Regions from separate parts of the Homo sapiens genome. Here region 2 is reported to be linked to region 1. Evidence: microRNA targets listed by miRTarBase, many of them from high-throughput screens and not tested one by one. Region 1 holds a microRNA gene; the other region holds the end of a gene's coding sequence.
Evidence for each region. Region 1 holds the annotated microRNA hsa-miR-3664-5p (AACUCUGUCUUCACUCAUGAGU, at 1,054-1,075, shown strand). A microRNA usually pairs through its seed, bases 2 to 8, with sites in the 3' UTR of a target mRNA and lowers its output. Matches are read on the target gene's strand: a 7mer-m8 pairs with bases 2 to 8, a 7mer-A1 pairs with bases 2 to 7 and ends in A, and an 8mer does both.

Region 2: the mRNA of TTLL12 is a reported target of hsa-miR-3664-5p. The part of its 3' UTR that is shown has no 7-base or 8-base seed match.

The regions. Positions count from the first base shown.
Region 1 is chr11:70,870,007-70,873,401 of GRCh38, reverse strand. MIR3664 (microRNA 3664) reads left to right here and starts at 1,034; the gene lies at 1,034-1,132. The region is part of intron 11 of SHANK2 (SH3 and multiple ankyrin repeat domains 2); the gene reads left to right.
Region 2 is chr22:43,165,416-43,168,802 of GRCh38, reverse strand. TTLL12 (tubulin tyrosine ligase like 12) reads left to right here. Exons shown (of 14, transcript NM_015140.4): 13 at 1-29; 14 at 644-2,181. The coding sequence ends at 795. Among named protein-coding and RNA genes, the nearest start is that of TSPO, 16 kb to the right of the region's middle. RefSeq lists an enhancer at 1-595.

The DNA of each region.
Region 1 (3,395 bases):
TGTTTGCCTATTGAAAGTGTCTGGGGCCGTTGGGCCCTCCTGTCTCATGAATGGGTGTGATTCCTGGAAGCCCTGCAAGTCTCGACCTTGTCAGCTCTCACCTGCCCTCCTCTTCCTCATGGGTTTTGTCAGAGGATGTTAATGCCTTCCAAGCAAATTGTATCAAATGCATTTGAAAGGCAAAACTCATTGTTTAGTGTCTGAGAATAGCCTCTGAGTGCTGGGATGCCACGGTTGCTGTGGCAACGGCTCTTTGTTTTAGGGAACCACAAACATATCATTCTATAAACTGCAGGGCCCAAGCTGCAGGTTTCACCTTCCTGAGGGTCGCCACCCGGGAGGCAGAGGCACCAGGATGGACGTGGGAACTACCTCCGCTCTTCCTTTCTCACAGGTGCCCAGGATGTCTTTAGCTTTTGTAATGTTTGGGGCTGGGGGAGGTGGAGGTCATGAGTGTGGGGAGAGGGCAGACAGTGGATATGTGCTCCTCCTGCCCCGAGGAGCTGGGCTCTACAGGGCATCGTGGGGTCCCTTCCTCTTAGCAATCAATGCCATGTTCCACTGTGGCCCCAGACTCCAGCACCAAGCAAAGCAGCCCCCACGACCCTTAGGACAATGAGGGGTGAAAATTGCCACCCATCAGTTTTCAAGTGGTCAGTGTGGAGGAAAACAGGGACCCGCAGGTGGCCAGAACGTGGAGGAGATACACCAGGGAGCCGGAAGTAATGTGGTCCAGGGACCCATCTCTCATTCCACGTAGCTCACGGACCTGTGTGCCCCTGACTCTGGTCTGTGGGGGGCCCCTCTGTATGGGGGCCCCCTATTCCCTCCATCTGAGGGTCTCTCTTCCCTCCATCCAGCCACTTGGTCGTTTGCACCCACTGTGTCCACCAAGCGCTTCTAGGGAAGGGTCTTGTCCTTTTTTCTCCCCGTCCCGCCGAGCCTCCACCTCCAAGCCTGCATCCTACTTGTCTTTCCTCTTCATGCGTGTGGGGTTTTTTTCCCCTCCTTTCCACTGTGCACCCCGTCTCCTCTGTAAACTTGAAGGTAGGGAACTCTGTCTTCACTCATGAGTACCTTCCAACACGAGCTCTCAGGAGTAAAGACAGAGTTCCCTACCTTCAATGTGGATCTGCAAAAAGATCTGAAAAGCGAATGCCTTCTCCGTAGCTCGTTGGCAGTAGTACTTGACCTGAACTGATTTGAGGCTATTTATAGTTTTTATTTATCCTACTTAGCATGATTATTCATCCGTGCCCTGAAGGACTCCTCCCGCAATTGGCAATGGGACACTGCCCAGACCCACTGGCGGTGTGACGTAACAGGCCACACACGCATCATCCTACTGCTGCAGAAGCAGGCAGCGTGCACATGCCAAGGCACCTCTGGCTCTGGTGTTCAGGGATGTCGTCGTGGGGCTGTATTTGTTGAATGAACAAGAGTTCTTAATCCAAGAATAATGCTGGGTTTACCTTTCAAGTAGTTCAAAGGCTTCTTTCAAGACGGTGTTGTTATGGAGGATGGGATGCGTCTTGCCTTAAATATTAATAGAAATCGTATATGGAAATCTCAGACGGCTTCAAAGAGTCTCTCAGTCAAATTCAGATGGGGACTGTGCCTCTTTCCTGGCTGTCCCCTCCCAGCCCCCATGTGGCCACAGTTTGCTGTAAAACCCTGCAGGGCCCCTGAGTACCAGGTGTGTCTGGCCCGTGTTGCCTTTCAACATGAACTCTTTCTTGACTTTCTTCTCCATCAGGGATATGGTCATATTTATAATATTTGTCTCGACCTCACTTTCCTTTCTCTCCCTGCCCTGCTTGTTCAGCAAATGTGTTGGGGAATCCGCAGGGTCCCAGGCACAGCCTCTCCCTCCAGGGGCTCACAGGCTCCATGGCACACAGATGTGGCCTCAGCACGTGAAGGAGGCTCAGTGCCAGGCTATGTGGCTCATCTCAGAAGGTGGTGTGGCCCCAGGTTCTGTGGTTGCCCTTGCTCTGCTCTCTGCTCCCCACCCCCGCCCATCCTGCCCTGCTCCTATGGTGCCAGTGATCTTCGGGGCTGGTGGCTTGCAGAGCGCTCCCTGGACCTCCTCTTGGACCCTCAGACTCATCTCCTGCAGAGCCTGCCACCAGGCGAGCCCAGACCCCTGACTCCCCTTTGAAGTGTGTCCCTGCAAATGCATATGTTGAAGTATCACCCTGAGGATCTCAGAGTGTGACCTTGTTTAGAGGTAGGGTCTTTACAGAAGTCATCAGCTGAAAATGAGGTCATTAGATTGGGCCCTAATCCAGTAGGACTGATATTCTTATAAAAAGAGGAAATGGGACCGGGTGCAGTGGCTCATGCTTATAATCCCAGCACTTTGGGAGGCTGAGGCGGATGGATCACCTGAAGTCAGGAGTTCGAGACCAGCCTGGCCAACATGGTGAAACCCCGTCTCTACTAAAAATACAAAGATTAGCCGGGCGTGGTGGCGGGTGCCTGTAGTCCCAGCTACTTGGGTGGCTGAGGCAGGAGAATCACTTGAATCTGTGTGGGCGGAGGCTGCAGTGAGCCGAGATCGTGCCACTGCACTCCAGCCTGGGCGACACAGCAAGACTCCATCTCAAATAAATAAATGAATGAATGAATGAATGAAATGTGGCCACAGCCATGCACTCGGAGCAAACCTCACACAAAGATGAAGGCAGAGCTCTGGGTGATGCTTCTGTCAGTCAAGGAATGCCAAAGATTGCCTACAGGCCACTGGGAGCTGGAGAGACAGGCCTGGAACAGAGTCTCCCTGCAGTCCCCAGTGTGAACCCCCCCACTGCCAACACCTTGACCTCAGACTTCCAACCTCCAGAACCATGAGACAATTCATCCCTGTGGTTTCAGTCACCCAGGCTGTGGTTACAGGAGCTCCAGTGAACATACCCCATCTTTCCTGGCCAGCTGGCCCTTCCTCCTGGGCACCCCATCTCAGTTATGGCCCAGGAACTGAAAACCCAAAAACCTTCCTAGATCTTTCCTGGCGCTCACCTGCCCTTTTCCCATCTGTCCAGAACCAGCCCCTTCCACTTTTTCTATTTCCTGAATCTGCCCCTCCCTCCCCACTGGTTGGGCTCTCATTTTGGCCCAGATGGACTGCAGGAGGGGACGGCTCTGGGTCTCACCCCGGGTTCATTTCTCTCAGTCCCCTGGAACGAAGTGGAGCACACTCTGCCTGGGTGAGCCTCCAGCACTCAGATTCTGCTGCTGTGCTCATCCTCAAACCTCTTCCATAGTGCCCTGGGCCACACTCTCTTTATAAGGACACTAATTATTGGATTTAGGACCCTCCCTAATCCAGTATTACCTCGTCGCAACCTCACTGATCACATCTGCAAGGAGGCAATGACCCATTTCCAGTTAAG
Region 2 (3,387 bases), not on the chromosome of region 1:
CATGCTGAAGTGGGACAACGGCCCAGATGGTAAGAGGGGCTCCCCATCTCCTGATCCAAACCAGCAGGCGCCCCCTCCGCCAGCCAGCCACAGCCTGGAGAAGGCAGGCAGCTGCCCCAGGCTGTCCTCTGGCTTGAATCAGCCAGGAATCTGGGTTGGGGAAAGCCCTGGCTTGGCCCACAGGAAGTGCCTGCGGTGCAGAGTCTGGAGGGGAAAGGCTGCGGGTTGGGCCTCTGAGTCGGGGGAGAGCTCACAGGACAGGAGACCCGTGTGAAAGGCACCCTGACCCCAACCCACACCACCCTGGCTGGCCTTCCCTGTGCCAGACCCCCACACAGTACACTGCTGCTGCATATCTACTTTTTTTTTTTTTTACTAAACTGAACATCCAAGCTTAAAGGGCCAGGCTGTCATCCCTAGGGCTGGAGGCAGCCCTGGCCTCTCCTAGAGAAGCAGATGTCAGGCCAGGCCTCCCCAGCAAAGTCAAGAGACCCAAGTTCTAGGCCCGGCCTTGTCCTGCTCATCCCCTGGGAATCAGGGCCCAGGTTCATGGCCTCCCAGCCTTTGCTGGATCCCCAGGCCACTGTCCCTGCAGAGTGGAGGCCAACGAGCCTTCACACTCTGCTGCGCTCTTTGCCATCAGGAAGGCGGGTGATGCAGCCGCAGATCCTGGAGGTGAACTTCAACCCCGACTGTGAGCGAGCCTGCAGGTACCACCCCACCTTCTTCAACGACGTCTTCAGCACCTTGTTTCTGGACCAGCCCGGTGGCTGCCACGTTACCTGCCTTGTCTAGGCACTCGCTGTCCCCAAAACCTGTGCTTGGGGCAGGATTCCAACCTCAGTTCTCTGAGCTGCTTCTGCAAAGGCCCCCATGTCCCTCCCCACACCGGCCCTGGGCATAGCCTCAGCCCCAGGCCTCTGTCCTGCCGAGCCATCCTCCCGGCGCCACACTCCGGGAGCACAGCATCCTCCTCTCACCTGTGGGTCAGAGCAGGACAGTGATGGTGTCCCCAGGGCTGAGCACCACCCCACGCCCTGCCCTCACCCCTCACCACCATCTGTGCACTGATGAGTCTCCAGTTTAGCCAAGGGCTTTGTTCCTGGCATGGAGAATTTGTTCCTGGCTGCTGTGTTTCCAGGGGGTGCTGGGGGAAGGGTTCCGTGGAGCGAGACAAGGTGTCCTCGGGAGCAGGGTTCCACCGGGAAGCGTTTGGGAGCCCTGTATCACACGGGGCAGGCGGGTTTCTCTTCCGGGGTCTCTGCTCTTATGCATCAGGACGACCCCGGGACGGCTGTGGGGCCCCACACTGCACCCACAGGGCTCTATGCGACAGGGGCCCAGGAACAGCCTGAGGCCACCACCCAGCAAGCCCGCCTTATCACCCATTCCAGCTCACCCAGAACCTTCACCAGCAAACCTCCTGCTGAGGTCCTGGCAGGAGGCCACCGTCTTGTTACCGTTTCCTTTTCGTTTGCTGAGGGTCACAGACCCCAACAGGGAAATCAGTATCTGTCTTCCCAGTGGTTGCCCTGCTCGCCGGGCACTCCACGGGGTCCCGCCCTTGTGTGAGATGGGCCAGGATCCTTCGGCAAGGGGCGCCTGGGGCTGGGGCTGATTGTGGGCGGTGGAGCGCCAGACAGAAAAGGATTCCAATGAGAACTTCAGGTTAAAGTCAGATGCCACCTACCAGGGTCTACAGTCAAAATGTTGGCTTTTTCTTATTTTTTAATGTATGGGAGAAAAATGTAAAATTCCAGTTCTTTTCTAATTGTGTTTCTGAAATTAGGAGTCAGCTGCCAGCGTTTTTGTGTGGCTGCAGTGTGCCTGGGCCCAGCTCACGGGCAGTGGGTGGACCTAACTGCCCAGGCAGGCGAGAGCTACTTCCAGAGCCTTCCAGTGCATGGGAGGGCAGGGCTAGGTGTAGCGGTGTCTCCTCTTTGAAATTAAGAACTATCTTTCTTGTAGCAAAGCTGCACCTGATGATGCTGCCTCTCCTCTCTGTGTTGTCTGGGCCCTTGTTTACAAGCACGCGTTACCCTTCCTGAGGGGAGCCATGCTCTAGCCCCTGGAGGGCCTGTTGCAGGGGCAGGGCGGGCCCGTCGCCTTTGGCAGCTCCTGGAGAGCTGTGGACATGCAGTCCCCCTCAGTTCGTGCTGCAATAAAGGCCATCTTCTCTTATTTCTGCCCTCCTTTCTCTTTGGACCCTGGAGCCACAGGCTCAGCCTGGCCTGTCGCCCCGGCTGTCACTGAAAAGCCCCGGATACCAAGAAGTCACCCACAAAAAGTGGGAGAAGAAATAAGATGGCCTTTATATCGCAGGCCTCCACCCCACAGTCTGATTTCCATGTGCTGGATCTGTTTCCAAGCCGGCCGGGAGCCTCGGTCCTCGAGTGGCCCCACAGCTCTAGTGGCCCTGGAGATAGCAGCCTCCCCACACTTGCCTCCTTGTCCTGGGGTGGGGACGGTGAGAAACCCTGGCTGCTGGGGCGTCTGCAGGGCTCCTCGGGCCACTGCTGAGCAGGTGCATGGACACCGTCAGTGGGTGGAAGCAGCGCCACATGGTGACCAAGGAGGTTAAGACTCAGAAGGCAGGCCAGGCATGGTGGCTCACGCCTATAATCCCAGCATTTTGGGAGGCCGAGGCAGGACAGAGAACAGGTCACACAAAGTCAAGAGATCGAGACAGTCAGACAGCATGATAAAACCCTGTCTCTACTAAAAATACAAAAAAAAACAAACATTAGCCGGGTATGGTGGTGCGCGCCTGTAGTCCCAGCTACTCAGGAGGCTGAGACAGGAGAAACGCTTGAACCCAGGAGGCGGGGGTTGCAGTGAGCCAAGATCACACCACTGCACTCCAGCCTGACGACAGAGTGAGACTCCGTCTCAAAAAAAAAAAAAAAAAAAAAGCGGAAGGCAGAGCGGCCCTGAGGCAGGCTGCCTGTGGACTGTGCTGCTTCTCTCCTTAGCCTCCCTTCCAGGGCAGGTCTCAGGACTGATGCTCACACGGACTCTGTCCAGAAGCTTAACAGCTGGTGCTCTCACTAGTTCCCAGCTCACTTAAAACCTGGTGCCCAGGAGATAGTCCTGCCCAGGGAGCAGCTGGGACAGCCCCCAGAATCAAGACCACATGGTCCAGGCTTTCCATGATTGTAGATGGCTATTCTCTGTCCCCACATGTCCTTGCACCTCTGCTCACTGCAAATGGACACCCCCAAGGAAGGCCAAGAGCCAGGGACTTCATGAGCCGGAAGACCAGCCGGCTCCAGGTGCTGAGGCAGTTGCCGGGAGATGTTTATCCCACTAAATACTTCTTCCTGGTACTCATTTGCACCCTCATCACTGTGTTAAGAAGCCATCCAAAGCCGGAATTGACCAGGCACA